Linked DNA regions of Homo sapiens: regions 2, 3, 4 and 5 are each reported to be linked to region 1. The links are microRNA targets in miRTarBase. Many come from high-throughput screens and were not tested one by one. Region 1 holds a microRNA gene; each other region holds the end of a gene's coding sequence.
Evidence for each region. Region 1 holds the annotated microRNA hsa-miR-520a-3p (AAAGUGCUUCCCUUUGGACUGU, at 1,035-1,056, opposite strand). A microRNA usually pairs through its seed, bases 2 to 8, with sites in the 3' UTR of a target mRNA and lowers its output. Matches are read on the target gene's strand: a 7mer-m8 pairs with bases 2 to 8, a 7mer-A1 pairs with bases 2 to 7 and ends in A, and an 8mer does both.

Region 1 (4,121 bases):
CACTGGGGATTACAGAATAGACTGGATGGACTTGGAGGATTACCCACTCTCTTAATGAAGGAACCATGGTTTGGATTGATTATACTAAATTGATGGGAGGCCATTGTATGACATGACCAACCCAAATGAAATCTGTGGGACCAGGTGCTATGTAATCTGTTTTTAAAGAAATGGGATCTTGCTATGTTGGCCCAGGCTGGAGTGCAGTGGCTATTCAAAGGTGGGATCTGTGCACGGTATAGCCTTAAAATCAAAGCACCCTCCCGCCCCGGCCCCTGCAGTAACTGGGACTGTGTGCCCCATGATGCCTGGCCAAGTCAACTATCTTTGAAATGGGTCATCAGGACAAGGTGGCTCACACCTGTAGGATCGCTTGAGCTCAGGAGTTGAGACCGTCCTGAGCAACAGAGACCCCATCTCTACCAAAAATTAAAAGCTGAACCAAGTGTTGTGTCACGCCCCATGTAATCCCAACTACTTGGGAGGCTGACTCAGGAAGACCACTTGAGGCCGGACACAGTGGCTCACGCCTGTAATACCAGCACTTTGGGAAGCCAGGGAGGCAAATCACTTGAAGTCAGGAGTTGAGAACAGCCCAGCAAACATGGTGTAACCCCATCTCTGCTAAAAATACAAAAATTAGCATGACATGGTGGTGGGCGCCTGTAATCCCAGCTACATGGGAGGCTGAGGTGGCAGAACTGCTGGAACCTGGGAGATGGAGGTTGCAGTGAGTGGAGATTGTCCTACTGCACTCCAGCCTGGGTCACAGAGCCAGATTCCATCTCTAAATGAATGAATGAATAAATAAATAAATAAATAAATAAATAAATAAATAAATAAATAGAGGGTCTCTTGGGCCCAGGAGAGCTAGGTTGGAACTGCCACTGCACTCCAGCCTGGGCAACAGAGACCCTGTCTTGGAGAAAAACAAAATCAGAACCCCAACATCATCCGAGTCTGATGATGAGCGTGCTCTGCAAATGTATTACCAAGATCAGCATCAACTTCAACGCTGCTTTACTCAAACCGAAACAGTCCAAAGGGAAGCACTTTCTTTTCTCTCAGACAACAGAAAGTACTTCCCTCTGGAGGGTCACAGCCTGAGATCTTCTTGCTCCAGCACTCTGGGTTTATTGTTGGAATTTTCCTTGACCAGGTTTAAATGGACACAAAAATAAAGATGCATTTTTCCTGGCCCTGTTTGCATGTTTTCTGGAATCCAGAATATAAACCCCCTAAAAGGACCATCTCCAGTTCCTTCTTTCAAAGGCTCAGCAGGTTAGCCTTGTTCATCAAGGGGCAATCCTCCTGAGTTTTGCCCCCAAAGAGAAAAAGCAATGCCTACTACTCATACCTTATCTTTAACCAAGAGAATCGAACTGAATTTCTAGAGAACAGCAATGGATTTTGAGCCAAGTGTTCACTTGAGTTCCAGTATAGGCACATGTAGTACCCATGGGGGCATCCAAAATGGAATCTAAGATGTTGAAGAATGTACATTGTCGCACACACAAACATCCTCCAGGAGAGACCACAGGCTACGCTGTAAAAGCTCCTCAATAAAAAAATACACAAGTACCTGTTGGGTGCGGTGGCTCACATCTCTAACCCCAGCACTTCAGGACGCCGAAGTGAGAGGATCACTTGAGCTCAAGAGTTCCAGACAAGCCTGGGCAACATGGTGAAGCTTCATCTGTACAAAAAATACAAAAGTGAGCCAGGTGTGGTGGTGCATACCTGTAGACACTAATTCAGGAGGCTGCGGTGGCAGGTGGAGGTTGCAGTGAGCCAACATTGCACCACTGCACTCCAGCCTCGGTGATATAGTCAGGCTGTGTCTTGTAAAAACTAGAAACACATACACACACACACACACACACACACACACACACAAAGACACACACTCAAAGTGATAGTCTCCTGCCTCACCCTCCGGAGTAGCTGAGACTACAGGCGTGCGCCACCAGCCCTGGCTAATTTTTTGTATTTTTAGCAGAGACATGGTTTCACCATGTTGGCCAGTCTGGTCTCGCCCTCCTGATCTCAGGTTATCCACCCGCCTCGGCCTCCCAAACTGCTGGGATTACAGGCGTGATCCACCGCACCTGGCCATACATCATATATTTTTGAGACCCTGTCTCAAAAGAAAGAAAGTTCCATATACTGTATGCTCACAGAAAGAATAATTCCTACACATAAGTCCTTGCTTTGGCAGCTCACACCCCCGTCTCTAAAATACAAAACCTAAATCAAGTGTGCGTTGATAACGTGGTCATACACCCTGTATTTCAGCTTCATTTACCCAATAAAAACTCAAAGCCCATGCACTCCACCTCTGTGCTCTTGCGAAGCAATGCACATCCCATCTGCAAGGGACACTGAGGTTCCCTTCAACTCTACCTCAAGTCAAGTCAAGGGAGGTTCTGTAAACCAGTGCAGGCATAACTTCCACGGAGTGAAAGGTGTTGAGGGCTGGACGAACAGGCATCACTCACTATGGCAACAAGAGCGGATGCGCATCCCACCTGTTACTAGGGAGGCCCTTCTAGGGTCCTCAAGGTTTTTGTGAAAGTATCTGTGGTTTTGTCCCATGTGACATTTATCACTGCAACTGAGATTCATCTTGTCTATAATAGCTTGTTTCTCATATTAGCCACAGCCAACATTTCACAGCTTACCAAGAAATTTGCATTTAAATGTGAGGTTTTGCAGGTTGGAATGGTACACTGGAAAAATTACCTGCAGAAAACAGGATAAACAGTGCAGCTGCAGTCACAGCACTCACTACGGTTGGCATGAGTGGGTGAGGGTTGAATCAACTACACCCTTCCTGCAGAAAAAGGTCTATTCCGAGAAATAAGTGGAAGCTGTTAAGCAAGAAAAATTTTCGATGTCAGGGACGAGCAGATTAAATTAAAAAGACAGGAATGGGCCGGGCACGGTGGCTTATATCTATAATCCCCAGCACTGTGGGAGGCCAAGGAGGCAGATCACTTGAGGTCAGGAGTTGAGACCAGCCCCGCAAACATGGTGAAACCCCGTCTGTGCCAAAAGTACAAAAACTGGCAGGTCATAGTGGTGAGCATTTGTAATCCCAGCTACTAGTGACACGGAGGTGGGAGAATTTCTGGAACCTGGGAGGCAGAGGATGCAATGAGTGGAGATCATCCCACTCTACTCCAGCCTGGGTGACAGAGCCAGGCTCCATCTCAAAAATGAATACATAAATAAATAAAAAGAGGATCACTTGAGCCCAAGAGAGCTAGGTTGGAAGTGCCACCGCACTCCAGCCTGGGCAACGGAGACCCTGTCTTAGAAAAACACAAAACCAAAACATAACCCCGCTATCATCCAAGTCTGATGATAAGCATGCTCTGCAAATGTATTACCAAGATCAGCATCAACTTCAACACTGCTTTTCTCAAACCGTAACCCTCAAAAGGGAAGCGCTTTCTCTTCTTTCTGACAACAGAAAGCGCTTTCCTTTGTAGACTCATAGCTTGAGATCTTCTTGCTCCAGCACTCTGGGTTTCGTGTTGGAATTTTCTTTGACCAGGTTTAAATGGACAGAAAAATAAAGATGCATTTAGTGGCCCTGTTTGCATGTTTTCTGGAATCCAGAATAAAACGCCTGAAAAGGACCATCTCCAGTTCCTTGCTTCAAAGGCTCAGCAGGTTAGCCTTGTTCATCAAGGGACAATCCTCCCGAGTTTTGTTCTCAAACAGAAAAAGCAATGCCTACTAGACATACCTTATACTTAACCAAGAGAATTGGACTGGATTTCCAGAGAACAGCAAATGGATTCTGAGCCAAGTGTTCATTTGAGTTCCAGTGCGGAGACACACAGTCCCATTGGAAACATCCAAAATGTGATCTAAGATGTTGAACTATATACATTGTCGCACACACAAACATCCTCCAGGATAGACCACAGGCTAGGTGGTAAAAGCTCCTCAATAAAATTTGAACAGGAATACACAAGTACCAGTTGGGTGTGGTGGCTCATACCTCTAATCCCAGCACATCAGGAGGCCAAGGCAGGAGATTCACTTGAGCTCAGGAGCTCAAGACCAGCGTGTACAACACGGTGAAACCCTGTCTGTAAAAAAATACAAAT
Region 2 (4,121 bases), not on the chromosome of region 1:
GGCTTACCCTCACATTGGTCATGGGTTTAATTTGTACATTCCACATGGCCCAGGAATTCCCAGACTGAAAAGTTAGCATAAACCATGGTCTAAGACCAGCAATACCCTGGGGATACCTGAGAGGGGCAAATATTAATACATTATCTCTGGACCTTGGCTGATAGAATGCTCACAAGTAAAGCCCATCAGGAGCCCGGAGTTCCAAATTATAAAGCTTGAGGAAACAAAAGTGATACGTACTTCTCTCAGAAAACTTGGAAAACACTGAAAAGCAGAAGGAAGGAGAAAACCTCACATTCCCTTAGCCCTACCCCAAGACAGTATCTTCTTCTCCATGTTGTTTTACACAGCTGAAATCATGTAGCATATACAGAGGCACGTCATAAATTCACAGATGGAAAATAATATGAACAGAGAGATTTGACAGTATATGATACCTACCACTGAGTGGTTTAATTGTTTTTCCAATTAAAAAATAAATCTCATCTCTCAGATCATTGAATCTGAGTTTCTAAGATGAACAAAATCATCACTCAGATTCTTCGGGGAGGCATTTGGCCATTCTACCGTGTCATGCATCTCTGCTTTTGCAGAGGAGGAAGGAGAGACTTTTGTTTAGTAATTTCTCCATATTGGGGTCCTGCTGTGAAAAAGTTTAGCTGTTCTTAGCAAGCACTGGACCAGAACAGCCTCAGCGATTATTTAAGTGATTGTCAGACATGCATCTGATTGAGGTGAGAAGGATATTGCCAGAGAAATATCTTAACTTCTTGTAACTTCTTCAAGCTCCTTAGAGCTGGGTCTTTCTTTCCCCAGGACTCTTCTCAGGGGAGCTCCCGGAGTGCACTCAGGAGCTGATGATTGACGTCACCAAGAGCTACTACCAGAAGTTTTTGCCCCTGACGCAAGTCTAGCATCTCTGCCTCATGTCTTGAATCTGCTTGAGCTCTAAGATGAACCTGGGGACAAAGTGAGCCAGTCAGCACCTACAAAGAGCTTTTGTGTCTTTGACATCTACCACCCTCCTCCTTTTAAAAAATTTCTTTAGAATTTCTCAATCTTCAAGGCTCTAAGTGCTTAAGAATTCACTAACAGACAGACCATCTGGAGGAGCTGTCTTCAAATGCTGTGCTTACACCTTATCTATGAACAGTCACTTTGTACCATTATCTGTGGAACACAGAATCATCTGTTCCCAACACTCCAGCCCCTTGGTCCTGTGGATGGCTGGATCCCGCCTGAAACGGACCTGCAGAGCAGCAGCACCCTTCCGGTGTGGAGGCTATGTAGCTGGTGCGCTGCTCACGGCCATTCACTGCCCATGCTGAGCGCCTCTCACACAGGTAATGCCCAGCTTTTCTGCTGCTAACACATTTGGCCAGTTGTTGCAGTTGCTCATCATCTTGGGAAAGGTGTTTGTGACTTTTCAGAGCCCAGATTCCTGTTGTCTATTAAAACTTGAAGGGAGGGGTGAATAGTGTTTCTCTCTTCTTCCCAAAATGACCTTAGCTGTCCTAGGATAGTTAGTAAAAGACTTTTTAGCATTTTGACCTAGGGCCTTTGGCTTTCACTAAAAGTGGGGACCTCAGTATCCCAGATTGTAATTTTGCCAAGTGTTAGATTTGAGTCTCTCATGTGGATGCATTAGTCAGGTGGTTACTCCTTGCTTCAAGGTACTTACCTTATTTCATTGAAGACACCGCATTTGTGAACTCTTGCTTCCTGGCCTAGAACCATTCAGCCTACCCTGTATTTGCCATAAACTCCACAATTCACACCAAAATGTCTGTACTTAGAGCTAATTCGCATATATACAGGAAGGGCTCTTAGAATCAGTTTGTGGGCACAGAGCCTCAGGAGTAAATGAAGTTACTAGGGCTGTTCTTACCATCTCCTTCTGGCCAAATAGCACAACATTTCCTCGTTCTGCTCTGACCTCTTAGCTTAGAAGGAAGATTCAGAAGTGAGGGGCTAAGAAGGTTGTCCTTGCCTAATGCTCTGATCTGTAAGTGAATAGGGCAGAACAGTTCAGCCTTGAGGTTAGAATTTAGCAGGAGCTATCCTGACTTAATATCCAGTTGTGGGGTTTGCAAAACAAAACAGCTGTATGTAATCATTGCCACTAGTTCCATCTAGAACTCCTTTCTAGTTTGTTATTTTTAAAATGTTTATACATAAAACCACCAAAATACATAGCTTCGACAAGATGGAAGTTTATTTCTCTCTCCCATAACAGTGCAGTGATAGTCAGCTGGTCCAGGCCAGGCAAGGGGCTGGTCCATGATGTCATCAGGCACCCAGGTTCCTACTGTCTTGCCATGTGGCCACAGTTAGCAACAAAGGAGGCTGTAAATTTAGTTTCTACTTGGGCAGCCAAAACTCTGAGGAAGGAGATTCTGCTAGTAAAAAGGAGTGGGGGAAGAATGGCCATTGGGAGACAACAAGCAGACTCAACCAGGCCTCTTTGTTGGCTTCCTTTCCTCCTGCTGCACATGAGCCTTCGCCGTGCATTTGGAGCCATGACAGCTGATAGCTCCAGACCTGCATCCTCCTAGCTTGGGGGCTCTGAATGAAAGGTTTCTTCCCTTCCAGTTCGAATTTGGAAACTCCCAAAGTTCTCAATGGTTTGTTGTGAGTTCCATGTCCTCTTGGATCAGTCACTGTGGCCATGCATGTTTGGCCACATGATTAATCCAGTCTGGGTCATGACCTTTTCTTCATCCAAAACAAGGTGATGGGAAGACAAAAACAATAGCTACTACAAACAATAGGAGTTTATAATTATGTGCTGATGTATTCGAAGATGTGTTGACAGTCGTGAGTGTGTATCCTAGGAAAGGCGAGCTGGACTCTGTCTCCATGGTGGCTCTCACCCCAGGGACCTAGGAACAGCCTGTCACCACACAATTACTTTTATAACCCTGGAGATGAAAATCTCCTTGTCCTCAAAATACTTCCAGAAGAACAACCAGATGGGAAGGACCTTGGTTGGGACTCTTTCCAGTTCACTTGGGGCAGAGGGAATTTAATGGCTCACGTAGCTGAAAAGGATGGGCTAGATTGGGCTTCAGGCTGCATCCCAGGACTCCAAACAGGGATCTGTCTCTTTGGCTCTCAGCTCTGCTTTCATTTGAGTTGGCTTTATTCTTGGGCTTCACAGTGTGGCCCCACAGCACCAGTTATTGATAAAAAGAGCTCCCCTTTGCTGACAGAACTGCTGGATTTGGTTCTCATTGGTCCAGACGAGGAAGGTATCCAGCCTCAAGTCATCATTGTGGCCAGGAAGATGGAATACACCAAATGGACAGGCCTGGCATGTACCCACAGAGACTGAGAGTTGGTGCTGGTGGTTGTGGTGGCAGATGATATTACCTGAAGAAGGGACGAATGGGTGCTGGGCAGGACAAAGCATCAGCTGTCCAGTTCAGGCCTCTCCTCTTTCCCTGGTGTCTTCATTTTCCTCCGTCTCCCTGCTGTCCCTTACCCTCTGCCCAATCTCTCATTACTCCTGGTCTTGGGAGTTGCCTTCTGAGGATACTCCACTGGGGGTACCTGAGCCTGGATTAGAGGGCAGGGGGAGGATATTGCCTAGCCAAAGTGGGTGTTCAATAAAGAACCATTTGGAGATGGTCTTCTGTCTGGAACTGCTTCCTTTTTGTTTTATTATTTTTCCCCAGATGAGCTGACTGGGCCATGGAACTGCATCCTTATGGTTCCCATAGCACCTTACCGAGGCGCCCTTATCAATAGAGTTTTAGTTATGTACCTGTGTTCTTGTCTGAACCCCTACTAACTGTGAGCTCCTGAGGAGTCAGGCCTGAGTCTGTGGGTCATCTAGCACATCCTTAATAGAATGATTGCCTGGATGTGACCACCCTCACCCCCAACCCTCACACACCCTGCCAGCATGCCTCAGACCTTACCCCAGCTCAAGATAAGTCTCAGATTGCAGGATACCTGCTGCAGGGAACAAAGGTGAATGATTGTCTTGTGAGCCTCCTGTTGACTGATTCTGTTTTACATGGCTGCACAGAGCCCTTGTGGTTATTTGGGGTTGGGGTGGTGGCTTCTGTATTAGTCACTTCTGCATGAACCATTTCACTCAGGATCTGAGGCCACAG
Region 3 (4,121 bases), not on the chromosome of region 1:
GCTAACACGGTGAAACCCCGTCTCTACTAAAAATACAAATTAGCCGGGCGTGGTGGTGGTCGCCTGTAGTCCCAGCTACTCGGGAGGCTGAGGCAGGAGAATGGCGTGAACGCGGGAGGCGGAGCTTGCAGTGAGCCAGATCGAGCCACTGCACTCCAGCCTGGGCGACAGAGCAGGACTCCATCTCAAAAAAAAAAGAAAAAAAGAAGCGAAACTCCTACCTCAGCCTCCTGAGTAGCTTAGGACCACAGATGCACACAACACCAGGCCCGGATAATTTTGTTTGGAGTTATTCTTTAGAGGTTATGGGGCCCAGCCTTCTTACTGCCCAGATTGGTAGCTCTCTTAAAGAATGGATCGAGTTGGCAGATGGGAGCCAGAATAATCGGGATGCCTGCTACGAAGACTGAAACTTCCATTCAGGAAAGAAGTGGTTATGTAAGTGGAGACTGGAGTTTTGGAGAGGGATGACAACCCACTCTGTGCATCCAGCAGGTAGTGAGAGGTCTGAAGTGATAGATTTGGAGGTTTTCAGCATTTACATGGCAGCTGCAGCCATTGGCTAAAGTTCTTTTGGTTGTTGTTTTTTTTTTTTGAGACGTAGTCTCACTTTGTCGCCCCGGCTGGAGTGCAGTGGCTCGATCTCGGCTGACTGCAAGCTCCGCCTCCTGGGTTCCCGCCATTCTCCTGCCTCAGCCTCCCAAGTAGCTGGGACTACAGGCGCCGGCCACTACGCCTGGCTAATTTTTTGTATTTTTTACTAGAGATGGGGTTTCACCGTATTGGCCAGGATGGTCTTGATCTCCTGACCTCGTGATCCGCCCACCTCGGCCTCCCAAAGTGCTGGGATTACAGGCGTGAGGCACCGCGCCTGGCCTTTTTTTTTTTTTTGGAGACGTTGTCTTGCTCTGTCGCCCAGACTGGAGTGCAGGGCGTGATCTCGGCTCACGCAACCTTTGCCTCCTGGGTTCAAGCGATTCTCCTGCCTCAGCTTCCCGAGTAGCCAGGACTACAGGCACATGCCACCATGCCCAGATAATTTTGTATTTTTTTTAGTAGAGACAGGGTTTCACCATATTGGTCAGGCTAGTCTTGAACTCCTAACCTCGTGATCCACCTGCCTCAGCCTCCCAAAGTACTGGTATTACAGCCACCACGCCCGGTGCCATTGGCCAGAGTTCTATAGACTTGATGGGAGTACATGATCTCTATGATCTAGCATCAAATCCAGGGGTATGTTTTGCAGATACTTTAGTGACTGAGTAAAATCTGAATTGTAAACTTGGTTCTATTGTCACTCTTTGATTGTTCTTTGAGTAACAGATTAGAAGATACTAGGAATTTTCCTAGGCAAGGGGGTCAGGAAGGGAAAGCAAAGTATTTTGGGGATGAAATGAGGTCTGTGAGACAGGCCTGGCAGTCCCACAGAGGATTCTACTCCTCACCCCGCCCTCAGCATTCTGGGTGTTGTTTTATTCTTTACGAAACTGCAATGTAGCCAACTTTTTTTTTTTTTTAGAGGGTGTTTGTCACCCAAGCTGGAGCGTAGTAGTGCGATCATGGCTCATTGTAGTCTCAATCTCAGCCTCCCAAGTAGCTGGGACTACAGGTGCACACCACCACACCACTCTTATTTTTTGAAAAGATGGGGGCCAGACACAGCGGCTCATGCCTGTAATCCCAGAACTTTGGGAGGCCAAGGCAGGCAGATCACCTGAGATCAGGAGTTTGAGACCAGCCTGGCCAACATAGTGAAAACCTGTCTCTACTAAAAATACAAAAAAAAAAAAAAAAAAAAAAAAATTAGCTGGGCATGGCTGTGCACGCCTGTGATCCCAGTTACTCAGGAAGCTGAGGCAGGAAAGTCGCTTGAACCCAGGAGGCAGAGGTTGTGGTGAGGCAAGATTGCGCCACTGCACTCCAGCCTGGACAACAGAGCAAGACTCCATTTCAAAAAATAAAAAATAAAAAAAGATGGGGTCTCACTATGTTGCCCAGGCTGGTCTCAAACTCCTGGTCTCAAGCGATCCTCCTGCCTCAGCTTTCCGAAGCATGGAATTACAGGTGTGAACCACCACACCCAGCTGCTGATGTATTTTTAAAATAATTCACCATATTACACTAAACGTATCCAAGTGACATATTTGAGGTAAGCAAGACTGCTGACATAACAACAGCCCATGCTACCAGCTACTTGAGACCAACGATCTACCATCAGACCACAGCCAGTTCCCACTGCAGTGAAATAACATGAAAGTCTTTATCAGTTGAGCAGTTTCTAATGTGAGAGTCAACACACCTGAAAAATGAATTTGAATGGTGGAAATTCAGTAAGTACTTTATTTATGAGTAAGGCTGTACAGGATTCAGCAGTGTCTAATTCGGGTCCCATATAGAAGTTAAAATTTTTAAATGAGTAATTCAGCTTACAGGGAAATATATTTTCATCTCAATCTTTTATGCTATATCATACCTCAGGCTTTTTAAAAATTATTTTTGAGATGAAATTTTAAAGTTCCCCCGGTACCCAAGTTACCATATTATATAGTATAAAGATAGTGAAATACAAAAATGTAACAAATACTAATACACTGTGATTAATAGCTGTTTATTAGCTTTTTAATAAAGCAAAACTTTATAGTGAAATAAACTAGAAATAGCTTTTTATTTTTTATATATATTTATTTATTTTTGAGATGGGGTCTTGCTCTGTTGCCCAGGGTGGAGTGCAGTGGCACAATCTTGGGTCACTGCAGCCTCTGCCTCCGCCTCCTGGGTTCAAGCAATTCTCCCACCTCAGCCTCCCATGTAGCTGGGATTACAGGCATGTGCCGCCACGCCCGGCTAATTTTTGCATTTTTAGTAGAGATGGGGTTTCACCGTGTTGGCCAGGCTGGTCTCGAACTCCTGACCTCAGGTGATCCACCCACCTTGGCCTCCCAAAGTGCTGGGATTATAGGCATGAGCCACCGTGCCTGGCGAAATAGCTTTTTAGAAGCTTTTTAAATGATATGCTTATAAAATGACAGACATGAGTGAAACATCCTCAATGACGATAATACACAAGTCACAAGTTTCCTGTGAGTGAAACTGAGCAGTACAGAGTCAGGCTGACTGTTTAAAAGCCAGATTCACTTCTTGGTATCACCGAGCTCTTACTCTGAAATTGTGCCAGGGGAGCTTCTGAGCATCACTGGTCTCAAGTTTAATAATGCAAAAATTCCATTTTATCATCTAAAGTTTTGGAGAAGAATCCCTTTGGCACTAATGATATTTACTCCAGCACCATCTCTCCTTTTTGGTGCCTCTTCATTCTTGAGTAGGGACTTATTGTATCATCCATCACAAAATCATACAGTACTTTTATCCAGGAATTGTAGTGAGGGAGGTTGTCATAGTATTCAGCTGCTATTTTCCTCACCTAGAAGGGAAAAAATACAGCAAGATGAAAAATGAGTGTTACTAGGTTCTTTCAAAGATGACTGATGAATGGTTGACACAAACACTGAGAAGGGAAACCATGAGACCTGCCTCCCTCCTCTCTCTTAAAAAAAAAAAAAAGCAGCAGCAGCAGCAGCTGTGGGAATTCTAAACAAAAAGCAGTCTACATTTCAGCAGCAGTTGAATACACTCGACCCTCTAGGTCTCTCTCCCATCACATTCCAAGGGACTAAATATCTGGCTTATTTGTAAAATTAACAACAAATACATACAATTAGATTAACTTGATATTATTAAAGAATGTACTGCATGGATGACGCCATAGAATATAAAGGCAACATCTGATCCCTGCCATCCAGGAACTTACAAATACTAATAAATTGTGGCATGCTAATTAGATAGAAATTAAGCACTTGGCTGGGTGCGGTGGCTCATACCTGTAATCCCAGGACTTTGGGAAGCCGAGGCGGGTGGATCACCTGAGGTCAGGAGTTCGAGACCAGCCTAACCAATATGGTGAAACCCCATCTCTACTAAAAATACAAAAAAATTAGCCAGACATGGTGGCGTGCGCCTGTAGTCCCAGCAACTCAGGAGGCTGAGATAGGAGAATTGCTTGAACTCGGGAGGCGGAGGTTGCAGTGAGCCGAGATTGTGCCACTGCACTCCAGCCTGGGTGA
Region 4 (4,121 bases), not on the chromosome of region 1:
GGAGTCAGAAAAAGAGTAAACAACCATATCCAAGCCAGTTTCTTGTGAGGCCTGGACTACCTGGGGAGGCTCAGGTGACTTTGGTACAGAGCCACAAGAGCCATGCAGCCGCCGAAAACCAGAGGTGACAGCTCCTCCAACTTAGACCCTTCTCATGCCTGAGTGTTCTAGATTCATGGTGTTCCATCTGGTAGCCAGCAACTCCAAGTTGACATTCTGTCAGAATCTAGAACAAATGAGAACTAAAATTCTAACTTAATTTCTTATCTACATAAGACAGTCTCTGTAGTTGCCTCTCATGTGCCCAGTAAGTGCCCAAGTAATTTGTCAGTTTGGGAAATGAAGCGAAGTCTTCAACAGCCATTCACACTCTCCAGGTGGGTAATACACAAGTGTGCTGCACACGTGCATTTTGAACAGTTTTCTGACTACCGTTGTTCTCTGGCTTTGCCTTCAGAAAACCCGCTATGAAATGTATGTCAGCATTCTCAAGGAAGGAGGCAAAGAGCTACTGAGTAACGATGAAAGCGAGGCTGCAGGACTGAAGAAGTCGCACTCGAGTCCTTCGCTGAACCCGGATACTTCTCCAATCACTGCCAAAGTCAAGCGTAACGTGTCAGAGAGGAAGGATCACCGACCTGAAACACCAAGCATTAAGCAAAAAGTTACTTAGAGTCCATCTGCGGCCAGGAAGTGCTGGTCATGGAGCAAAATAGGGTTTTTCAAGATCTTTCTGGTAATCCGTGAATATATTTAAAAAAAAAAAGTCTGTGACAAAACGGTGCATTAGTAATTTTTTCTATTGTATATTTTTGTTAGTTTCTGTACAGATTGTCTTTGCTCTTGATTTCTTTTGCTTTGATGATTTTTGCAACTTGATAGCTAATGCACCTTTTCTGTGAGGAGGAGGGGATCGTGATTTCAGAATGAATTATGTATCCCTTCTCTTTTGGTTTTCTCTTGTTTGCAGTCTGCTCAGTTGTTTTATGTATTCTCATATCAACTGTTAAACTTTTTTTTAAGGTTAAAGAATTTAATCCATTGTGAAACACTTAACTGGACAAACTGTAGTTTTAGTAAATTCTAGCTGGAGTTAATATACGCCTTTATATGTGAAATCTTGCCCAGTCACAGAGGTAGAATTGAGCACTCACAGATGCTCCAGTAAGAATCACAGTGCTGGGAATCTAGTTGCTCCAATATGAGGCAGCTTCATGTGCAGCTTAGCACTTGTTGTTGAGATCGGACCCTGCTGGAAGCAGGGAAAAGAAGCGTGAAGATCGTAGGATTGAGAACTTAGGGAAGCACATTAGCTTGCTTGAAGTGCTGATTCCATTTCAGCCAAGCAAGGGAAAGAGGAAGTGGAGTCATTTTGCCTTTGAAGGCTGAGGAAAGATTGATACCCAGTTAATTTTGTTTGCTAAAGGATGGGGGCAATAATCGGCCCTTGAGGAGCTGCAGCAGTAGGCATGTGCTCAGTCTGCAGGAATTGTTACCTCACTCCCACAGGGTCTAGACTAGAAATCCATCATCTCTATCGTTGATATCCTTCCATCCAGGAATAGATTTTTCTTACTCTACATATGTGTGTGTGCGTGCGTGTGTGTGCGTGTGTGGGCATGGGGTTGTGTCCTGGTTGTGATATTGAGGTCTTCCTTCCTAACAAATTAATACTAAAATGAAACAGCTTTTCTTGTGTCCTTAAGACAAAATAAGGAAGGAAAACGTAGCTGCAGTTGTCCACGATGGATATTGGTTCTTTAAAATATATCTGAAAGTAGTAGTCAGAATGAATTATGGTTGGAAAACTGAGGAATCTTCTGGTTGCAGGTGCAAAGTGACTTTGTTTATTCTTGTCTCAGTCTCCTTGATAGCCACTTCACTCTGCTACTACTCAACTTTCTCCTAAAAATACTTCATCTATTTTCAGTCCTTTCTTTCTGTCTACTCAAAATGGTTCTATTAACTTTGCAGTCATGAGCTTGTTCCAGTTACAGTCCCTTTGAAGTTCAGGGTGATAAACAGAATATTCTTCTGTAGAGGAAGAGAAAGGAGTGAAAGTTTAGCCCACTGAGACCTAGAGCTTTGTGATTTCCTAACCTTGAAACTCTGTAATCCCTAAAGTTAAAATCTCCGCAAGTGGCACAACTTCAGAACTAATAGTATCACTTTGATTTTTCTTTTTCCTCCCTTAGAAAGTTTCTCTAGTTCTATAGTTTATTTGTTGAAGGTACTATGACCAAAGAATCAGCTGCTCTACAGGAATAGCATGGTTCCAGTGAATTAGAGAAAACCTGCTGTAAAGCCATGGTAGTGTCTAAGTGGTATGTTATTATGATGTACTAGCATTTATTTACAGAATTATTTATTAACGTTTACTTCCTTCCCCTCTGTAAATGTCCATGACTATTGCCCAGAGAAGGCTTACCCCTCTCTAGGGTTGCAGTTGCTTTCTTTGTAATAAGTATTTTGCCACACCTGTAAAAAAAAAAACCTCACTTTTAACTCTCTGCCTTGTTTGGGTAAAGGCAGTAACTAAGTTTATGTTTCAGAACTGCAAAACAAACAGGATAGTTACCAATATGGCCCATGTATCAGATTGATTTTTGTAGCCTCTCACTGAATCCAACATATCCACAAGCAAGTTATCTGTCTTTCTACCTGATAATCTAAATTATCAGGATATTTGTTTTCTGCCTAAATGTTTATACTAAGCCGAGGGGAGAGAGGTACCTAGACCATGTCATCTACAAGCTTCAGTAACTAAAGAAAAAGGAACTTCCCTGAGTGGCTTGAATGTGTTTGCCCACAGTCTATATCTATGTATATAGAATGTCTGTATGTATTTTACTTATTTAATATACATTGAATGGTACCTTGCTACAGTATTTCTGACATTTAGAGTAGTGTTGAAATACTCGGCTAGCATCAGCACCACTATAGCACTGTCCGTGTCATATGAGTCACTAATATTAACTCCAGGGACTTCTGGATAGGCTAATAGATCATTGGATACGAAGGGCTCTTTTGAAGCTTCAGTATACCATGTTTGCATAGTTTATCTTTAAAAACAACTTTAAAGGTTCTTTTGTGAGCCAGGATCTCAGACTGCCGTAGCATGATGCTGTCCATCTTTAGCGCATGGGCTGAGAACACCTCTTCCCTGAGGCTTCTGAAGGTTGCTGTCTGTCATGAGTGCATGAAGGAGGCCAAGAGTTTATGCTATGGGAGGAAACAGTCACTGATTTGCCTAGATTCTGAGAGTCTGGCCCATAGCCAACCACATTTTCCTTTGGGATAATTTATTTCCTGTGGCATCTAGCCAGAAGAAATTGAGGATGTTTCCTTTCACAGCTGCTCCAAGCCTGTTGCCCAATTCACGGTACAAGGGAGCACCCCTTCCCTTTCCTCTGAAGGTACGCCACCCACCTCCGTCGCCCACCTCAGCGCCCAGGAGCCTTGGGACTTCCTTCCATATGATAAATCATTCTTCTTCACGTCAATACACTTCATATTAATTTCTAGTACAGAAAATCTTGACAGCTATCAGAATGCCTTGGTCATAGTGTTGTTGCAAAATTGACCATACAGGTGGCCCATGTATAAAATCTGAATTTTAGGGGTTTGTCCCCACCTCGCATGCTGGCTTTTACAGGGAGGTGTCTGGGATTCCTCATTAGCAATCAAAACTTAATTACTGGGATGCAGAGTCCTTACTTTATCGCCAGCCCGTAGGCATTTCTGAAGTGCACTTTTTTGAAACATCATTTTGCTAACTCTCAGCAGTGTCTAATTAAACTGAGCAATACTTTTGTGAATTTTAATTAATCTCAGCAAAACCATGATGGGAGAGAGTCCTCTGATGGAAATGTAGTCCCTGGATTATGTGTAACCTTTTTATTCCTCTTAGATGCAGAGGATAGAAAGCATTTTTTGGTGCAGTGGTCTTGTGGCAAACACAAGACCCTCTATGCGTCTCCAACTGTTATCCTAATCTAGAAAATGAGGACTGGCCCCTGGGCAAAAGTGACATGAGGAATTTACTCTGGAAGAGGAAAATCTGGGTGGCTTTCCAAGGCTAAGATAGGTTTGTATTTCACCCTGTGGCCAAGCTACAGAAC
Region 5 (4,121 bases), not on the chromosome of region 1:
AAATACTGCCTCCTTAAGATGTCTCCAGTCGACTGGGTGTGGTCGCTCATGCCTGTGATCCCAGCACTTTGGGAGGCCGAGGCAGGCAGATCACAAGGTCAGGAGATCGAGGCCATCCGGGCCAACATGGTGAAACCCCATCTCTACTAAAAATACAAAAAATTAGCTGGGAGTGGTGGCTGGCACCTGTAGTCCCAGCTACTTGGGAGGCTGAGGCAGGAGAATCGCTTGAACCCGGAAGGCAGAGTTTGCAGTGAGCCGAGATCGTGCCACTGCACTCCAGTCTGGTGACAGAGCAAGGCTCTGTCCGTCTCAAAAACAAACAAAAAACAAAACGAACAAACAAAAAAATGAATGTCTCCAGTCGTAGCAATGACTGGCTTTTGAAGTGAGGAGAGGATGCTCTAATGGAACCTAAGTGCTCCCATAGGACCGAGCTGCTCTCCTATCTTATGAAGGCACCATGGTGGGCTATCATCTCCTGGGCATACTACAGAGGACCATAAATGTATAGGGAAAAAGATTACAATTCAACTACTCTTTAAGATTTGTTCTGTCTGCCATTACCTTTCCCGCAAAAGAGCCCCATTCACATCCTTAGTTCTCTGGACCCAAACACTGCTCTTATTTCCGTGGCACCTCCGGGCTTGCACTGTAACAAGCCAGCAGCCCATGCTAGTGCATCAATTTGGCAGGAATCATAGACTTTATATTCAATGAAGGGAAAATCAATTTATTTTTGATGTAGTTATCTCTGTGATAGGAAGAAAAAAGCAATATAATTTTAAGAATGTATTTCCTGGTGGGCTTCATTTTAAGATGGGCCAAAAAAATCTCTTAATTTATGAAAACATTGGCATCTTTTAAACTATAAACATGTTACTATGAACACTGACTACATTACTGAAGAGGCAGTTCAGGACCACTTATATACGTACCAGACCCTTTGATGTGCAGGCAATCCATAGGATAAGAAGAAAATGCCAAGCCATTTACAGTTTTCAAATATTTTACTGAAAATGCATATTGTACAATTAATGTATAATGACACACCAGTGTGAGAAACCTCCATAGGTATCATTTCCACAAATATGCTATGAATATAGAGTTCCTACACAAAACTATACAACTTACCAGATGTAATTCCTGTTACGTACCATACTCACAATCGTCTTGAAGAATATGGAGAAAAAGTGCTGAGTGACAAAAACAGGAGCCATGTGTGATTTTAATAAATGGAAAACACGGCATTTCAGCTCAGTGGTAAAGCAGTAAACCAATCAGATGCTTAGCTATCAAGTAATCATGTGAGAGGAAACAGAATTAGATCCTTACCTCATACTATATGTTGTCAGCTAACACTGTAGCAGTGGTATATGAATCACATAAATTACCTCCAACAAAATGTATTCCATGTATTAGAAAAAAGGAGGTATGCCTAACATTGTGTCACGTTCCAAAGGTGAATTTTGCAGGTCAACGATATGACAGTTCAAGGAAGCATACATTTTATTGTTTCAAGTTGATTTCTAATGCTCAAACTATTTACGTCAAAATTTACAGAAAATAAATCTCTATATCAACAGCTTAAAATAAATGACTTACCTAAAGTCCACTTCTGAACTGCATAACTCCTATAAAGGTTTCAGTCTGTACCAATTAGAATGTCTTCAGTTATTAGTAATAGAGCATCCTAAATCAACTGGCTTAAAAATAAGTTTAGTCTCTCACAAAAGAAACAGTCCAAAGGAGGAGTGGCTACAAGGCTGCTTGGTTTGGTGGCTCAAAGACATCATCCAGGTCTCAGGGTCTTTCAGTATTTCTGCTCAGGCCATGATTAAACTATAATCCATTGCTGAAAGATGGTTACCAGGCACCACATCCAGACAAGGTACTGTTCACCACAAGATTCCACTTCCCTTTGCTTGAATCCTTGGGCCTTTGAGAAAACCTTTTCCAGAAGTAGTCTGTCAGGTATATCCTTTGTTTTATGTCTAGAATTGGGCCCTGTGACCACTGTAAATCAACTGCTGGCAACGAGAAGGGGAGTGTCACTGGTTAAAACTAATCAGGATTTATCTCACTTCCTTTTGAGGATAAATGGATAACCAAACTCCGCCAGCAGAGTAAGGGAGTGACTAAGAAAGTCACTCGGCAATGTCTGCCACAGACCCTTGTTAGAATGTGTTCTTAATTCATTAACAGGAAGGAGTAGAGCACAAGGTTTAAAACCAGTACGACATCAAATGAAAACACAGTGAATTCCTATGTTAGAAAGTCACTCGGCAATGTCTGCCACAGACCCTTGTTAGAATGTGTTCTTAATTCATTAACAGGAAGGAGTAGAGCACAAGGTTTAAAACCAGTACGACATCAAATGAAAACACAGTGAATTCCTATGTTACACAGCATTGTGCTCTGCACTGTTATGTAAGTGTCCAAATAAAAAACAGTAGAAAAAAAAATAGATACAAATGGGAATATTTTAAGTATATCTTAAAACTGTATAGAGTGCAATGATTTTCTCACTCTTGGAAAACTGGCATTATTAATTTTAAATTACCAAGCAAAGTTTTCTATCTATTTTATACATGGATATTTATCTCTCTGGCTGACTCAGATACAGTTGAAAACATTATAAAAGCATTGGTCCTTTAGAGCTGATATTGTTCATTAAGAATGATCAATGCATTAAATCCTAGAGAAGAGTGCAAGAAAAAGTATACTTTATACCTATCAAATGATATTAATGTAGTGCTGTTTAGAATACTCTTACTATATGAATTACAAAATAAGGATACAACGTTTTTTCAAACATGATTCGAAGTGAACATACAATTCCTGTAATGTACTGTAATAAAAACAACCCTCTCCCCAAACATAAGTCCTATGTTCTTTGGGAACTGCTTACATGAGTTTAAGGTTACCGACTTAACTAGCTATCCTGATGACTTTACAGTTTCTATTTACACAAGAAGTATGTTTATTCACAGCAGGAATCTTCTATTTCTTTTTTTTTTTTCAAGTTTGCTATTGTATCAGAAACATATCTTTTAGTATTAACAGTTTCCAAAGGATTATGTCTTCCACATTCCTTATACTGATAGATTTCCCCTTGGCTATGATTTCCCTGATATGCAAAACAGTTCCAATCCATGGTGACATGTATATACATTCTTAATATTTATAAATTTTTACTTGTCTATAGTCTAGTATTGTTATACCATGTGGTCTTGTTATAATCATGGTTTCCATTCTGTGAGTCTTCAGATTATGAGTCCAACACACAAGGGGATGTCCACACTAACCTGTGTGAACTCTCTGATGTACAAGGTGTTTGACTTCAGGCAGGAGTTTCTGATTCACTATACTGAAAGGGTTCTCTGATATAAAATGAGGTCTGACTTCAGAGAAGCCTTCCCACATCTATTACATTCATATTGCCTCTCCTATGAATTCTCTGATGGCTGTTGAATGCTGATTTGTGGTAGAATTTTTTTCCACATTCAGTACACTCATAGGGTTTCTCTCCTGAATGAGTTCTATAATGTACAGTGAGGTATGACATCCGAGAGAAGGCTTTTCCACACTCATTACATTCAAAGGGTTTCTCTCCTGAATGAATTCGATGATGTATAGTGAGATAGGACATCTGAGAGAAGCACTTCCCACATTCATAACATTCGTAGGCTTTCTCTCCTGTGTGTGTTCTCTGATGTCGATTAAGGGCTGAATTCTGGCAGAAGGTTTTCCCACATTCACTACATTCATAGGGCTTCTCTCCTGAATGAATTCTATGATGTATAGTGAGGTATGACATCTGAGAGAAGAATTTTCCACATATATAGCATTCATAGGGCTTCTCTCCTTTGTGTATTCTCCGATGTCTACAAAGGGCTGAGTTCTGGTAGAAGGTTTTCCCACATTCACTACATTCATAGGGTTTTACTCCTGAATGAGTTCTATGATGGATAGTGAGGTATGACAACTGGGAGAATAACTTTCCACATTCATTACATTCGTAAGGTTTCTCTCCTGTGTGCACTCTCTGATGTCTCATGAGGGCTGAATTCAGGTAGAAGGTTTTTCCACATTCATTACATTCATAGGGTTTCTCTCCT

Region 2: miRTarBase lists DCTN5 as a target of hsa-miR-520a-3p. The part of its 3' UTR that is shown has no 7-base or 8-base seed match.
Region 3: miRTarBase lists DEGS1 as a target of hsa-miR-520a-3p. Seed matches in the 3' UTR shown: 7mer-m8 at 2,943-2,949.
Region 4: the mRNA of PSD3 is a reported target of hsa-miR-520a-3p. Seed matches in the 3' UTR shown: 7mer-m8 at 1,226-1,232.
Region 5: miRTarBase lists ZNF12 as a target of hsa-miR-520a-3p. Seed matches in the 3' UTR shown: 7mer-m8 at 1,192-1,198.

What each region holds. Positions count from the first base shown.
Region 1 is chr19:53,687,868-53,691,988 of GRCh38, reverse strand. It overlaps MIR520A (microRNA 520a), which reads right to left and starts at 1,108; the gene lies at 1,024-1,108. It overlaps MIR1283-1 (microRNA 1283-1), which reads right to left and starts at 3,508; the gene lies at 3,422-3,508. The region is part of intron 2 of LOC107985342 (a long non-coding RNA gene); the gene reads right to left.
Region 2 is chr16:23,666,231-23,670,351 of GRCh38, forward strand. It overlaps DCTN5 (dynactin subunit 5), which reads left to right. Exons shown (of 6, transcript NM_032486.4): 6 at 817-4,121. The coding sequence ends at 914. Among named protein-coding and RNA genes, the nearest start is that of PLK1, 11 kb to the right of the region's middle.
Region 3 is chr1:224,191,632-224,195,752 of GRCh38, reverse strand. DEGS1 (delta 4-desaturase, sphingolipid 1) reads right to left here. Exons shown (of 3, transcript NM_003676.4): 3 at 2,312-3,421. The coding sequence ends at 3,275. Among named protein-coding and RNA genes, the nearest start is that of DEGS1, 10 kb to the right of the region's middle. RefSeq lists a silencer at 3,125-3,194.
Region 4 is chr8:18,532,295-18,536,415 of GRCh38, reverse strand. PSD3 (pleckstrin and Sec7 domain containing 3) reads left to right here. Exons shown (of 16, transcript NM_015310.4): 16 at 458-4,121. The coding sequence ends at 673. Among named protein-coding and RNA genes, the nearest start is that of NAT2, 140 kb to the right of the region's middle.
Region 5 is chr7:6,687,442-6,691,562 of GRCh38, forward strand. It overlaps ZNF12 (zinc finger protein 12), which reads right to left. Exons shown (of 5, transcript NM_016265.4): 5 at 992-4,121. The coding sequence ends at 3,407. Among named protein-coding and RNA genes, the nearest start is that of ZNF12, 17 kb to the right of the region's middle.